2 separate regions of the Homo sapiens genome follow, and region 2 is linked to region 1. A link means that fine-mapping ties the variant in region 1 to the expression of a gene that starts in the linked region. Tissue or cell type: lymphoblastoid cells. Region 1 holds a variant in brackets; the other region holds the start of a gene. All regions are shown on one strand. Distances are between the middles of the regions.

What was found. PIP is the estimated chance that this variant, and not a neighbour inherited with it, causes the effect. A credible set is the group of variants that fine-mapping cannot tell apart.
Region 2: PAH starts here. The variant in region 1 is the best candidate, but not a certain one, in a credible set for the expression of PAH in lymphoblastoid cells (GEUVADIS, PIP 0.53).

The regions. Positions count from the first base shown.
Region 1 is chr12:102,888,241-102,896,425 of GRCh38, reverse strand. PAH (phenylalanine hydroxylase) reads left to right here. Exons shown (of 13, transcript NM_000277.3): 3 at 1,508-1,691. The region is part of intron 2 of LOC124902999 (a long non-coding RNA gene); the gene reads right to left. Among named protein-coding and RNA genes, the nearest start is that of PAH, 25 kb to the left of the region's middle. The variant A/G (reference allele first, on the strand shown) is at 4,004.
Region 2 is chr12:102,913,898-102,921,897 of GRCh38, reverse strand. PAH (phenylalanine hydroxylase) reads left to right here and starts at 4,654. Exons shown (of 13, transcript NM_000277.3): 1 at 4,654-4,827. The coding sequence starts at 4,768.

The DNA of each region.
Region 1 (8,185 bases):
TCTTGCAAAGATCCCTATTTCTTTCAGAATCAAAACCATAATTCTTAAAATGGCCTGCAATGACCCTGTGATTATTCTGACACTGTCTCCTGTTATTTTCCCCTTGACCTCATCCACTCTCATCAACCCACCTTGTGGCTGTCTCTTCAACAGGCCAGGCATGCTGCCACCTTCCGGCCTTCACCTCTCTCAACTCCTTTAGGACTGTACATAAATCTTGCCATCCCAATGAGGCCCCATGTGCCTGCCCTATTTAGTCCTGCAATCTGCCCTCACCCTGTCTCAGGAATGCCCATTTGCTTCCCCCTGCTCTGTGTTGCATTTTTGCCTTAGTCTTTCTCATGATAACATGCACAAATGAGTTTCTGTTTGTTGTTTGTATCCCCTCAACTTGAATGTAAGCTTTATAAAGGAAAGCATCTTTATTTTGTTCACTGGTGGATCCCAAGCCGCTAGAAGGATGATTGGCCACTGTTGGGTGTTACAAATGTATATATTTATTGAATACCTTGAATGGAAAGTAATTTTATATACATATATATATATATATATATATTTTTTTTTTTTTTTTGAGACAGAGTCTCGCTCTGTCGCCCAGGCTGGAGTGCAGTGGCGCGATCTTGGCTCACTGCAACTTCCACCTCCGTGGTTCAAGCAATTCCCCTGTCTCAGCCTCCCAAGTAGCTGGGATTGGGATTACAGGCACACACCACCATGCCCAGCTAATTCTTTTGTGTTTTCAGTAGAGACAGGGTTTCACCATGTTGGCCAGACTTGTCTCCAACTCCTGACCTCAGGCAATCTGCCCACCTCGGCCCCTCAAAGTGCTGGGATTACAGGCGTGAGCCACAGCGCCAGGCCTATATAAATATATTAGTGGTAATTATATTAGATAATTTTTACTGAGCATTTACTATGTGCCAAGTGGTGCACATGTATCATATCATCCAACACTCCCAATGAACTTATGAAGCAGGTATAATTAAGACCAGCAAGTTACAGATGGAAAAACTGAGGAATGGAAACATGAAAGTACATCGTCTCACAAGCAATAAATTTAGATATTAGATATAAATCAAATAAGTCTGACCCCCTATTCAAGCAGAACAATGTTGCTTCTATATTATTTATTTATTGTAATTCCATAGAATTTCGTTTGGAAAGTGGGGGTGTTTCCTATGTAAATATTTTTGGCAGCCACTGTCCTAAATATTTTAACCAAATCAAAATCTTATAGTGGCAATTCTAGGCCTTTAGCAGATTTTCATGTGATTAAATTGTGACATGTGAACTAACTGCCCCACCTCCTGCCACTTAGTACTTGGTTTTAAAGAAGAAAAAGTAAACAACTTTTGCAAATTTAAGGACTTTTTTATACTCTTATAAAAATAATTGTATTCTTGAACTCTCCATTTTGTTGCGTTAGGTTTTCCTGTTCTGGTTCTGCATCTTTGGCCTGCGTTAGTTCCAGTGACTGTCTCCTCACCCTCCCCATTCTCTCTTCTAGGAGAATGATGTAAACCTGACCCACATTGAATCTAGACCTTCTCGTTTAAAGAAAGATGAGTATGAATTTTTCACCCATTTGGATAAACGTAGCCTGCCTGCTCTGACAAACATCATCAAGATCTTGAGGCATGACATTGGTGCCACTGTCCATGAGCTTTCACGAGATAAGAAGAAAGACACAGGTAAGAATTAGAGGAATTTTGCAACATAAGTAACTCCACACTGTCTTCATAAAATAACAGCAATATACATATTTAACAGCATATTTAAATATATGTATATTTAATATATATTGCTGTTATTTTGCGGAAGCAAAATTAATATATATGTATTGGAAATAATGCCTTGGAAGACTGTTTGGGGGATTAAATGAGTGGACATAGGTTGGGGACCTAGGCAAGTGCCTGGTATATTTTAGACATATAGTGAATTTTAGTTATTTTTCCCCTTCCTAAAGATAGCTATTTCTTTTTTCTTTTTTTTTTTTACTTTATAAGCTTTTAATTTTTATTTATTTTTATTTTTCTCTCTCTTTTTTCTTTTGACTTTTATTTTAAATTCAGGGTTATATGTACAGGTTTGTTACACGGGTAAATTGTGTGTCATGGGAATTTGGTATACAGATAATTTTGTCACCCAGGTAATCAGCATAATACCCAATAAGTAGTATCTAATTTTCAACAAAACCCATGAAAGCAAGCAATGAAGAAAGGAATTCCTAGTCAATAAATACTGCTGGGATAACTCGAAAGCCATATGCAGAAAATTGAAACTGGACCACTGCCTTTTACCATATACAAAAATCAACTCAAGATGATTGAATGGATTTTTGAATCTCTCCACTCCAACCAAAGGGATCTCTTCAAGTCCTTTTTGTAACATGCCAATTCCAGAGCTGGAGACACCTGGCTCCTTGTTACTAGGGCTTTCATTGTCATTTTCCATCTTCTTATCTGTCTCTTCTTCTCATACAATCTCCTTGTGGGCAGGTAGACTCTCTTACCTATATTTATATCCTCAGAGTTTAGCACACTGCTTGGTACACAGGTGCTCTGCACATATTTCTGAGTGAATGACTAATATAGGAGTTGTCAAAACTTGCATTGTCCCATTATTTACGTACTGAAATGCTACTCATCCTCCGGGGAGGAAAAGGGTGGTAGAGTATAGAAATTATAAGTGTGGGCTTGAAGTTGAATAGACTGTGGTTCAAGTCCTACTTCTTCCACATATTGAGTTTGATACCCTGACAAATTGCTTTAACTGCCCTGACCTCAATTTTTCATAGGGCTTTTGTGAGGATTAAATGAAGTCATACATAAACAGTGCTTAGAACAGTGCCTGGTGCACTGTAGGGCTGGACAAATGATAGCATGTGGTTGTTATTATGATTATGATTAGCCTGAAAGCAATACAGAGGAAGAAGGTGACTGCTTTTTAGGGCCTCAAGCATATTCAAATGAACCATTTTTTAATAGACTTTTTATTTTATTTTTTATTTTTATTTTTATTTTTTTAGACAGAATTTCGTTCTTGTTGCCCAGGCTGGAGTGCAATGGTGCGATCTCAGCTCACTGCAACCTCTGCCTCCTGGGTTCAGGCAATTCTCCTGCCTCAACCTCTTGAGTAGCTGGGATTACAGGCATGCCCCACCACGCCTGGCTAATTTTTGTATTTTCCATAGAGACGGGATTTCACCATGTTTGTCAAGCTGGTCTCAAACTCTCGACCTCAGGTGAACCACCCGCCTCAGCCTCCCAAAGTGTTGGGATTACAGGCATGAGCCACTGTGCCTGGCCTTAATAGACTTTTTAAAAGAGCAGTATTAGGTTTACAGAAAAACTGCACAGAAAGTACAGAGAGTTCCCAGGTCTTTCATCCCTACCTCAGTTTCTTCTATTAACATCTTGCATTTGTGTGGTATTTTTTTTTAGAACTGATGAGCCGATATTGATATATTATCACTAATTGAAGTCCATAGTTTATATTCGGGATCATGCTTTGTATTTTACAGTTTTATTGGTTTTGACAAATGCGTAATGTCATGTATCTACCATTTCAATGTCATACAGAATAGTTTCATTGCCCTAAAAAATGCCCTGTGCTCCAGCTATTCATTCCTTCTTCTTTACAGACTCCTTCCAGCAACCACTGCTCTTTTTGCTAGCTCCATAGTTTTGCTTTTTCAAGAATGTCACATAGTTGAAATCATACAGTATGTAGCCTTTTCAGACTGGCTTCCTCCATTTAGCAATACATATTTACAAATCCTCCATGTCTTTCTGTGACTTGATAGCTCATTTCTTTTTGTTCCTGAATAATATTCCATGGTCAAGATGTACCACAGTTTGTTTATTCATTCACCTATTGAAGGACATCTTGGTTGCTTCCAATTTTTGATGATTATGAATAAAGCTGTGAATAAACATTTATGTGCAGTTTTTTTGTGTGAAGATAAGTTTTCAACTGATTCAAGTAAATACCTAAGAATGTG[A/G]TTGCTGAGGTTAACTTCTTTAAAAAATTATTTTTTTTCTACTGTAAAATCGAGTTTCTTTCAAAAACACTTGGAAAGACTTTGGGTCAAGAGGAGTTCAGGCACCATAGCTGAAAGAAGCATTTGAATAGGCAGAGATGCTTTAAAATGAGACAAGATCCACCCCGTAAAACAGGCCACTGAAACATTTTTTAAAAGGTAGCTCCATGGCCTTTCTAGGAGACTCATCTCTGCCTTCATTCTCCTGTAGGTATAACCAAGGCAAGGAAAGCCCACTCCAGTGTTCTGGCCTTGTGGAGAGTGGACAGCCATGCAGATGGGCTCAGGTCCCTGGAGGGCAGGCACTTGGAATTCCTCCCTGGATTAGTCCTATCCTGCCTTCTTTCCTTTTCAGCCTCCCAAGCTGCTTCCCCAATGACTGCCCTCCCTTGCTTTTTTCCGGCCACCTGCTCTCAACAGGAGCTGCAGACCCTTTGGACAAAGGGCCTGCCAGATCCTGGGGCAATTCAGCCTCTGGTTGGAGCAGGTGGAGGCTGGGCCAGCTGGGGCCATGAGGAAGGAAATCAAAGCAATTGACAGGCAGACAGCCAGCCCCTGGAGGAGCCAGGGAATATATAGTAAACCAGCTGGAGAGCCGGCAGCCTGAACTGGAGGCTCAGAAAGGAGGTTCTTAGTGGGGACATTGAGGGGGAGTTAAGAGTGCAGATTCAGGAAGCACGGCGACCACACTCGGTGTGACTTTGAGCAAATCATTGACCCTTGCAGTCTCCCACTGTATCAAAGGGGAGTCACAAGAGCCTCTGCCTTATAGGATTGGTGAAATCACACAAGTGAAGCACTGGGAACAGAGCAGAGCATGTTTAATTAAGGACTTAAAGTTATTCTCTATTCTTACCATTATCATCATTATTATTATAAACACTGGCATGAGCACAAGAGCGACCAAAATGCAGCCTGTACACAGCTACTTTTTCAGAGTCTGGCAACTGGAAAATGACCTGAGAGGTCATGCAGCCCTACAGACCCCTTCATTTTTCATTGTGAAAACAGAGGCTGTGACTTGCCTTAAGGCAAACAGTGGGTTCTGGGGGGTCATGCGCAAGGGTGTGTTGAGAGCAGCTCTGTGCCGGGCACAGTGCTAGGAAAGAAAGGGTCAATCTGCCTGTTCTTAAGGAGCTCACAGCCTGGCAAAGGGGAAGACACACCCAGGTAAGTAGAATAGAGGGACAGGTGCTGTGACAAAGACAGGGTTGGTGTGATTCCGCCTGTTCTCCACTCATGTTTAGCTCTGAGGATCCAGGAAGTAAGAAAGTAAAAAAGCTAATGTTTTCCTTTTTTTGAGATGGAGCCTCACTCTGTCGCCCAGGCTGGAGTACAGTGGCACAATCTCTGCTCACTGCAACCTCCGCCTCTCGGGTTCAAGCCATTCTCCTGCCTCAGCCTCCCCGAGTAGCTGAGATTACAGGCACATGACACCACGCCCGGCTAATTTTTATATTTTTAGTAGAGACGGGGTTTCGCCATGTTGTTCAGGCTGGTCTCACACTCCTGACCTCAGGTGATCCGCCCACCTCGGCCTCCCAAAGTGCTGAGATTACAAGTGTGAGCCACAGTGCCCGGCCTAAAAAGTTAATGTTTTCACATAGAGGCATCATGTAATAAAAGTTGGGTTTATTGGAGCCTGGAGGAAGCACAGATTCAATTCCCTAATGGGGCTTCTCGCTTTCTTGCTCAAAATGTCAAAGTTGTTGATATTTGAAGTGGGATGACATTTTCCCTAGGGAAGAAAAACTAGCTAAGACCAACCCTTTAAAATAACATGTGTTTTGTGACCCTTATTTCTTCAGATGATTGGTCACCCAATCCCATAGTGGCTGCCCCCACCTGACCTTACCATACCTGTAATGAGAGAGCTGATGTTGACATGCCACGACCTGGCATCTGCCAAGAAAGACTCTTTGGGTTTCTGTGGTAGTTTCCGTGAAGTGGGGTCTGGGCCAAGAAACAGGTTTTTCTTAAGGGGAACAACCATTCCTTTGCAAAGTTGCCCTTTCTATAGGACTCAGTGGGAGAACAGTCAGAGGAAGAAAAGCATTGTAGTAGATCTGAACCTTTGATTCTTTCTCCGGACAAAATGCCCTTTTTATTGTGGGGCTCAGATCTCAGAGGCGAGTCTGACAGCAGGTTCAAGTAGGAGATCTGAACCCCTCAAATCAATTAAGCTAAACTACTTTCCACTCTAGTTTTTAAACCATTCAAAAAGCCATGTGGGTGATAGAAAATAAAAGTTTTTCAGTTTCTTAATTGCGAAAGTTCCCCACCCAAAACAGCTTAAGAGAAGGTTAATTACAGCGACATGGTAAAGAAACCCCAACCTTCTCAAATGCCTCCTGGAGAAGCTGATGTGAATTTAATAGGATTTTAATCCAGAGAGTCTTTTGAATACTTGAGGTCTATTCTCCTGCTACCCTCTTTCCTGATGACTTCAAATCCTTCTTCAACCCAACATGAAAGAGCATTAATATCTTTCATCGATCAATCTACTAATCCTTTTACCTTTCCCTTTGAGTCGACTGCATGACATTACATTTAGTGGGGGCTAGAAAATTCCTACGTGGAGAGAGATTGCAGCCAGGAGAAGCAGACAGACACAATGTCTTGGGTAGACAGAAGTTAGGAACATCACCATTTGAGAAATATGTTTGCAGTTATTTTCCAAGAGCAGATAAATATCTGTTGGGTTTTGTTTAATCTATGGTGATTATAAGGGTCCTGGTGGGGAAGAAAAGTGAGTTCAAATTGCCAGAACAACTACTGGTTCTGTGGAAAGCAGAAAGACCTATCTGCCTGTCTATCTATCTATCTATCTATCTGTCTATCTATCTATCCGTCTATCTATCCATCATCTATCATCTACACCTGTCTATCTATCATCTATCTACCTATCTATCTGTCCATCAATCATCTATCATCTATCTATCTATCTATCTATCTATCTATCTATCTATCTATCTATCTATGTTGTCTGGGAACACTTATGATTACTGTGAGAAGACAAAAGCAACATCATTATAGTCATTCCTTCCCTCTTGTTGCCCCTCCTTGCCTTCTTGAGTTTCTTCTGCTTCAACATTGCTGACCTGAAGAACTGTGCTGAGTAAAGCTGACATTTCAGATCAATTGGGGTTGAAGGGAGGATAGGATTCCTTAGAGGGCTCTGAAAAGCCCCTGGGATTGTGGGCAAGATAATACATGGGTGTGCATGCATAATTTTTAGGAGACAAGATTTTTCAAAGGGGCTATGGTTCCCAAAGAGTTAAGAATTTTTAGAGAGAAGCCGCTTAGGGCTGGAAGGGAATCCATCTGGTTAGAGTTTTTCCCCACTCCCACCACCTGCACTTTTCTTTCCTCTCTCCTTTCCTCTGCTTGGCTTTTCTGTCTCCACCTTCCCATTGCCCTCTTCTCAGTTCTAAACCTTCTCCCGTGCATTTCACTTTGTGCATTCCATGTGTGCCTTTCACAGCTGTAGATGTATGTGGCTCTGTGTCTGCAGGAGACCAAGTATCTGCATGTTTGCAAAAACACACAGGATTGGCTGTCTTTTTCAGTCTTTACCTGGATGCTTGCTGGATGCACTGATGTAGCACTAAGTCCTGGCAGCTGGGGAGGTCACTCGTTTCAGCAAACTGCCTCACTGAGACAAGCAGACTCCAGCTGAGAGGATCAGCCCATTCAGGGGGAGGTGACACCAACCCAGGAGTGGGAAGCAGAGTCCCTTCATATCCTTGGTAGACTGTCTGCTCCCTGCAGTCAGTCACAGGCAACTCTATTCATTGGCAAAGGAAGATCCTGAGCAAATGCTATTTCTGCAGCCCATCTAGTTTGCCAGGTCACAGAGCTTCAAGCTCAGGAAGATTACAAAATTATAAGGAGGCTCTCATTCTAAGAGGAATCCCTCAGTGATATGCCACACCCAGTGTTTTCCAAATTCTTTCGCATTAGGTTATCTCATTTAAGCTTTGCAACAACCAACTCAGGCAGCTAAAGCAAACATAGTATTATTCTTGTTTTCAATATTAGAAAACAAGTCAGAAAGGTATAATTAAAAGGTTGCATGGATTTTCCAGTTCAATTCCTGGGCTGTAGCTGTTCGGCCAAGTTGCTTTCCCTCTTTAGGCCTCA
Region 2 (8,000 bases), 26 kb before region 1:
TACAGCAAAAAAATTAAAATATAAGGGATAACTTTCAAATCAGAGAAAGAAAATTTGATCTATATATCTAGCGGAAAGTTAAAATAGGCTCTATGGTGAGAAAATCCCAAAAGACAATTGATTGTGGGATTGGCCTCTTTAAGTTAAGTGGTATTACCTGGACTGTGGGACCATGTTGAAAAGCCTCTAAGAAATCCCCAAGGCATGTACAGGTATATCTACAATGCAGGTAGATTAAAGATCTAGCTATGATAGATCTAGATGCTAGAGAGAAGAGCACCTCTTTGGAACTTTGGGATGGGGAAGGACTTCTTAAACAATACTCTATAGTACAAACCACAAAAATTTTTAAAAGGATGGACTTGTTATTTCAAAATTACTTGTTTTATTGTTTAATCAAGGAAGGACACCAGTTGACAATTAACTGACAGTGACACATTGGGAGGCAATGTGTTCAGTGACTGAGAAGGGCACAGAGCTAATATTTGGACACAGAGCTAACAGAAATTATTGCAACAAATCTACAAGACAGGAATCCTAGTAGAAAATGGGTAGAAAATATGATGATAAACTATTCATAGCATGGGAAATCTAAGAGGTATAAGTATATAAAGAGATGCTCAAACTCATGAGTTATGAGAGAAATTCAAATTAAAAACAACAAGACACCAGCTTATGCTGATCAGATTGGCAAAAATTCTGACCTTTGGAGAATACCACATATTAGGTATACCCACCAATAGGAACTCTTTTGCCTGCTGGTTGGTGTGTAGACTGGTCCAAGCCACTCTAAAGGGCAATCTGGCAGCACTTTGTGAAATTAAGAGTGCATGTTCCCTATGATTCATAATAGCACCACTCTTCTATCCCAGAAAATTTCTACCCCAGGCCTATAAGGGAAGAAAGATAAGGAAATTTATCACAGTATTGTTTGGGGTGGTGAAAAATTAGCAATGACTTAGATGTCCATAACTGGAAAATAAAGAAGTCAAGTGTGGCAAATACACACTGGGATATTCTGAACCATTTAGAAAAGCAAAGAACTAGATACATATTCAGCAGCATGGCTGGATCCTAAGAACACAGTTGAAAGAAAAAAGAAACTATGAAATCTATAGTACATCCATAGATTGTAGTAAATCTATAGTGCCACATCACATATCCATGAAAAATACATATACGCACAAACATTTCTATGTATTTTACAAGTTCAAGGCTAAACATCATATTAGAGAAGTTGCCTCTGGGGAAAGGCAGTGAGAGTGAGGAATTATGATAAAAGAGAATGAATAAAAAAACAAGAGAAGGGTCATGTAGGTTTTGTTTCTGTGCCATGAACTCATGGATTATGATTAACTCAACCTTCTGCACATGAAGATAAACAAGAAAGAACTGATAAACCTGCAATGGTTGGGTAATCTTCAACTTCCAAATCAGCAAAGGTCAGCTCTAAGTTTGCCAAGTACACAACTTCTCATCTTGTGACATGTTCCCCACCTCTGTGCAGTGTTAAAAAATACCTCAGTGGTCTACTGACTGACTGTGGATGCTTCTTCTAGATGTGCCTTTTTTTCCTCCATTTCCTTAGCACCCAGCACTGCTCTCATTATAGCAGCACATTGCATTCCAACCAAATTGAACAAAAAGGTGGCTTAAAAATCATCTGCAAGTTTATGGCACAAGCAATCTCTTATTTTTATCTTAGTGCATAAATAAATTTTTCCTTTTTGCCAGAATAATTTTTTTTAAAGAAGCGATTAGTTTTTCTTCTCTCAGATAGCAATGATGTGCTTTCCTCTCAACCTAGATTTAGGGCATTTTTATGTGAGATAGGATTAAAAATTCCATTTTTGTACAACCACTATGGAGAACAGTTTGGCAGTTCCCCAAAAAACTAAAAATAGAGCTACTATATGATCTAGTGATCCCACTGCTGGGTATATACCTATAAGAAAGGAAATCAGTATATCAAAGAGATGTCTGTTCTTTTATGTTTGTTGCAGCACTGTTCACAATAGCCAAGATCTGGAAGCAACCCAAGTCTCCATCAACATGGGTTTTAAAAAAATGTGGTACTTTAATACACAATGGAGTACTATTCAGCAATAAAAAAGAATGAGATCCTGTTATTTGCAATAACATGGACAGAACTGGAGGTCATTATGTCAAATGAAATAAGCCAGGCACAGAAAGCCAAACATCACATATTCTCACTCATATGTGGGGTCTAAAAATCAAAACAATCTGATTCATGGAGCTAGAGAGTAGAGAGCTAATTACCAGAGGTGGGGAAGGGTAGTAGGGGCCTGGAGGGGAGGTGGAGATGGTTAATAGGTACAAAAAAATATAGAAAGAATGAATAAGACCTAGTATTTGATAGTACAACAGGGCGAATATAGTCAAAATAATTTAATTATACATTTAAAAATACCTGAAAGAGTATAATTGGCTTGTTTGCAACACAAAAGATAAATGCTTGAGGGGATGGATGCCCCATTTTCAATGATGTGATTATTACACATTGCATGCCTGTATCAAAATATTGCACATACTCCATGAATGCATACATCTACTATGTTCCCACAAAAATTAAACATTAGAAAAAAGAGTTGCATTTTCAGCTGTTATGGGGAGAAGAAAGAAAAGCTATCATTTTGTTGTCCTAAAAATTATGTTGTCCTCATTTCAAACAGGAAAGCAAAAGTATTTGAGAGCCAGTGCAGTGCCTTGGTGTTGGGTGAAACATAGATTGAATTTGGGCCATTTGTTTAAACTTCCTAGGCCTCAGTTTCTTGCCTATTAAAAGGGAGTGCATAGTTCATGGGATTGTTAAGAGGAAGAAGTGAAACCATGCACGTGGAGAGCGTGGCACAGTGTCTAAGACAGAGTGTGCATGCAAATAAGTAGATAATATTCTTTGCTTTTCTTTATTGCATGCCTGTAATATTTTTGGAGTTGTCACATTCATTGCCCTCAAGTAGCATCAAGGGATGAAATTATGTTTGTAAGAAAATCCTGAGGCTGAGGAATACAACATGTTTTATGTCTACTACACTGAAAAATGCCGGAGTCAGATAAAGAATACAGATTCTCCTGAGGATGGAAATCAAGATCTTCGCCTTCAATATTTAACAACATTGAGCTTCCAACTTACTATGGGAAATATTCATCAGGCCCCTAAAGGTTCCTTTTGGACAGAAATTGCACTTGTTATATCTGTATTCTTAGCAGACAGTAGACAGCCTGGCACATCATAAAGGCTTAAGGAATCCTAAATATCCCTTAAAATTCTCATTTTAAAGACAAAAACAAAACAAAAAAAAAAAACAAAAAAAAACTGAGGCATGGGCTTGACCAAATCAGTGGTAGAACCAAGAGTTAAACCACTTGTTTTGAATCCTAAACCTGAGTTTTATTTTACTTATTTATTTATTTATTTGTTTATTTATTTTCAGATGCTTGGTCAAAGAACAGTGGGAGGAGAGGGATGGGCTTCCAGCAACCTTTATTATTGGCTTATTTTCTTACAGCCCATTACTTTCTCTTGGGAAAATATTAAGCAGGCACTCAAGGCTTGAGGCCCCTGAGTTTTCACATCCTTTCTGAACCTCTGAACCTGCTTTCCAGCATTCTTTTATACTTTGTTTTACCTCCTGGTCAGTAATGCCTCACCCTCAGTCTTCTCTAAAAGTGTGGTTAATGGCATCTTCCTGACTATTTGAAGACCACTGGCCAAATCCCACCAGCTCACTCATAGACCATCCCCCTACTTTACTTTCTTCAAAAGACTTAGCCCTACCTAAACTTATTTATATGTTTATTTTCTGCCCACCAGAATGGCAGCATAGCTGGGGAGGCAGAGTCTGTTTTGTTCATTGCTGTATTCCCAAAGACTAGAACACCACCAAGCACACGGTACAGGTCTCAGTAATTATTGTCAAATTTATGTGGATTTGCTTTTAAACAATATCTTCCATTTACTGAGTGTTTATGTGGAAGAACTGTACTAAATTTTAATGCATTTCTTTATTCCTATTCTTAAAACCTTCCAGCAAGGTGGCTCTACCACCCTCTTTTCCGAGCTTCAGGAGCAGTTGTGCGAATAGCTGGAGAACACCAGGCTGGATTTAAACCCAGATCGCTCTTACATTTGCTCTTTACCTGCTGTGCTCAGCGTTCACGTGCCCTCTAGCTGTAGTTTTCTGAAGTCAGCGCACAGCAAGGCAGTGTGCTTAGAGGTTAACAGAAGGGAAAACAACAACAACAAAAATCTAAATGAGAATCCTGACTGTTTCAGCTGGGGGTAAGGGGGGCGGATTATTCATATAATTGTTATACCAGACGGTCGCAGGCTTAGTCCAATTGCAGAGAACTCGCTTCCCAGGCTTCTGAGAGTCCCGGAAGTGCCTAAACCTGTCTAATCGACGGGGCTTGGGTGGCCCGTCGCTCCCTGGCTTCTTCCCTTTACCCAGGGCGGGCAGCGAAGTGGTGCCTCCTGCGTCCCCCACACCCTCCCTCAGCCCCTCCCCTCCGGCCCGTCCTGGGCAGGTGACCTGGAGCATCCGGCAGGCTGCCCTGGCCTCCTGCGTCAGGACAACGCCCACGAGGGGCGTTACTGTGCGGAGATGCACCACGCAAGAGACACCCTTTGTAACTCTCTTCTCCTCCCTAGTGCGAGGTTAAAACCTTCAGCCCCACGTGCTGTTTGCAAACCTGCCTGTACCTGAGGCCCTAAAAAGCCAGAGACCTCACTCCCGGGGAGCCAGCATGTCCACTGCGGTCCTGGAAAACCCAGGCTTGGGCAGGAAACTCTCTGACTTTGGACAGGTGAGCCACGGCAGCCTGAGCTGCTCAGTTAGGGGAATTTGGGCCTCCAGAGAAAGAGATCCGAAGACTGCTGGTGCTTCCTGGTTTCATAAGCTCAGTAAGAAGTCTGAATTCGTTGGAAGCTGATGAGAATATCCAGGAAGTCAACAGACAAATGTCCTCAACAATTGTTTCTAAGTAGGAGAACATCTGTCCTCGGTGGCTTTCACAGGAATGAATGACCATTGCTTTAGGGGGTTGGGGATCTGGCCTCCAGAACTGCCACCAATTAGCTGTGTGTCTTTGGACAAGTTACTGTCCCTCTCTGTTGTCTGTTTACTCTTCTGTACACTGAAGGGGCTGGTCCCTAATGATCTGGGATGGGATGTGGAATCCTTCTAGATTTCTTTTGTAATATTTATAAAGTGCTCTCAGCAAGGTATCAAAATGGCAAAATTGTGAGTAACTATCCTCCTTTCATTTTGGGAAGAAGATGAGGCATGAAGAGAATTCAGACAGAAACTTACTCAGACCAGGGGAGGCAGAAACTAAGCAGAGAGGAAAATGACCAAGAGTTAGCCCTGGGCATGGAATGTGAAAGAACCCTAAACGTGACTTGGAAATAATGCCCAAGGTATATTCCATTCTCCGGGATTTGTTGGCATTTTCTTGAGGTGAAGAATTGCAGAATACATTCTTTAATGTGACCTACATATTTACCCATGGGAGGAAGTCTGCTCCTGGACTCTTGAGATTCAGTCATAAAGCCCAGGCCAGGGAAATAATGTAAGTCTGCAGGCCCCTGTCATCAGTAGGATTAGGGAGAAGAGTTCTCAGTAGAAAACAGGGAGGCTGGAGAGAAAAGAATGGTTAATGTTAACGTTAATATAACTAGAAAGACTGCAGAACTTAGGACTGATTTTTATTTGAATCCTTAAAAAAAAAAATTTCTTATGAAAATAGTACATGGCTCTTAGGAGACAGAACTTATTGTACAGAGGAACAGCGTGAGAGTCAGAGTGATCCCAGAACAGGTCCTGGCTCCATCCTGCACATAGTTTTGGTGCTGCTGGCAATACGGTCCCCACAACTGTGGGAAGGGGTTAGGGGCAGGGATCTCATCAGGAAAGCATAGGGGTTTAAAGTTCTTTATAGAGCACTTAGAAGATTGAGAATCCACAAATTATATTAATAACAAACAAAGTAGTGTCGTGTTATATAGTAAATGTGAATTTGCAGACACATTTAGGGAAAAGTTATAATTAAAAAAATAGGCTGTATATATATCAATGGTTCCAAAATTTTCTATGGTTAAGAATCACCTGGGATGGTTTTGAAATGGCAGATTCTAAGACAACTTGATTCAACAGGTTTAGGTAAAGCCCAGGGAACTGCATTATAAGAAGGAATCACCTGTAATTTTGGAGTCAAGATCCAAGGAACACTCATTGAGAAACACTGATTTACAAAGTGCATGGAGAGAAATGGAGCAAGTGAAGGGGGATCAGCATGGTGAAATATAGGCTGTTAGGAGTGCTATTGACTAACTGTCTGGTGACTGGACCAGAGTAAATCTTTTACTTTGCAAGAAACAGGACTAAATTCCCATATTATGTCCATAGCAAAGGGAATTATGTAGAAAAATTGATAATTAGGAGCCTGAGTTCTTGACCAGCCTCCACTACCTATGTGGCCTCAGGTGAGTTATTTTCTCCCTTTGGCTCTAAGTTTTCCCCATCTGTAATGTAAGGGAGTTTAACTAGATGAGCACTAAGGACAAATCAATTTCTGTGAGTCAATTATTATGAAATACCATGTGGGCATCAAATGCCAAGTGGAAAGCATAGATAAAGAAGTGATTGTGCACCTGGGCTGAGGGGAACAAACATTTCCTAAGAGAATTGAGACCCAAAAGAGCCTTTAAGGAAGGTGAGATCTTGGAAAGGGAAATTTGGTGAATACTCTAATGAGGAGCTAAAAAGGCAAGAAAGAAAGCAGCTTGGCTGGAAAGGAGGTTCCTGTAGGTGGGCCTCCAGAGATTCGGTACCACAGAAACTGCCAAACATCAGCAAGAAGCCATGGGGATGGAGCGTTTGAGGGATTCTAAATAGAAGGACAAGAGTAAAAATGTCAGGCTGGATCGATGCAGGCCACTAAGAAATGGATTCAGGTGATGGCAGTGGGAAGAAAGGACCTGATGCCCAGAGGCATTTCTGGAGAAGATGAGATCAGACTTGTGATTGGCTGAACACACACTGTAGTGGGGTGGGGTTTAGGGGGTGACTCAACTTCAAGCCCAGGTACATTCAAGTCTGAATTGCCCTAGTCAAAAGTGGCATCTGTGGATGTGTATCAGAAATATCTTACTTTTCTTGGAAGCCAACAGGAGAAAAGAGTGCTACCAAGTGAACTAGAGACAGGAATATCTTTTGTCATTTCAAGGAAACTGGAAAGAAGAAGGCTCAGTATTCTTTAGTAGGAAGAAGACTTAAGTCAGAGACTCATCTGTACCTCTCTGGCAGGGTTTAAAAGGGGGAAGAGGAATAGAGGCTGCAAGAGATTGTGATTCATGGACAGTATGCAGAGATCAAATGACCTGGGTTCAGATCCTGGCTCCACTGCTAACTGTGTAACTATAGGCAAGTTCCTTAACCTCTCTAAGCCTTAATCTTGTCATCAATAAAAGGGGGCACTTGGTGCCTAATAAAACCTACCTCTTAGGTTGTTGCCAAATTACATGAGATAATCCAAATCAAGTGCTTATTATAATACCCAGAAATTATAGGCTCTAAATAAATGTTTATATAGGCTCTAAATAAATGAAGTTTTTTAGAAAGATAACATCATGATCAAAATGGGATATTTAACAGTTTAGTCTTCCATTTCATTTGAAGCTCCCTAAAATCACTCTTGCTGATAAATTTGTTTTTTCCTTCACACCTCAGTTTCATGGGATGTTTTGGCAAAAATCTGAATTTTCTGAATTGAAAGAATTTTTTGCTAAGGGTCATCAGTATTCATGCAGGGCTTGTTATTCTGAGTCACTAAGAGTTTCCTAACACAGCCTTCTCTCATTGAGATGATGTAACATCTATTCCATTAATTTCATTAACTTGCTTACAAGAGAGTAATTGTTCTGCAAATTTTTTTCTTCCCAGTTTTAGGTACCTGCTGCTTATTGTGGACACACATAG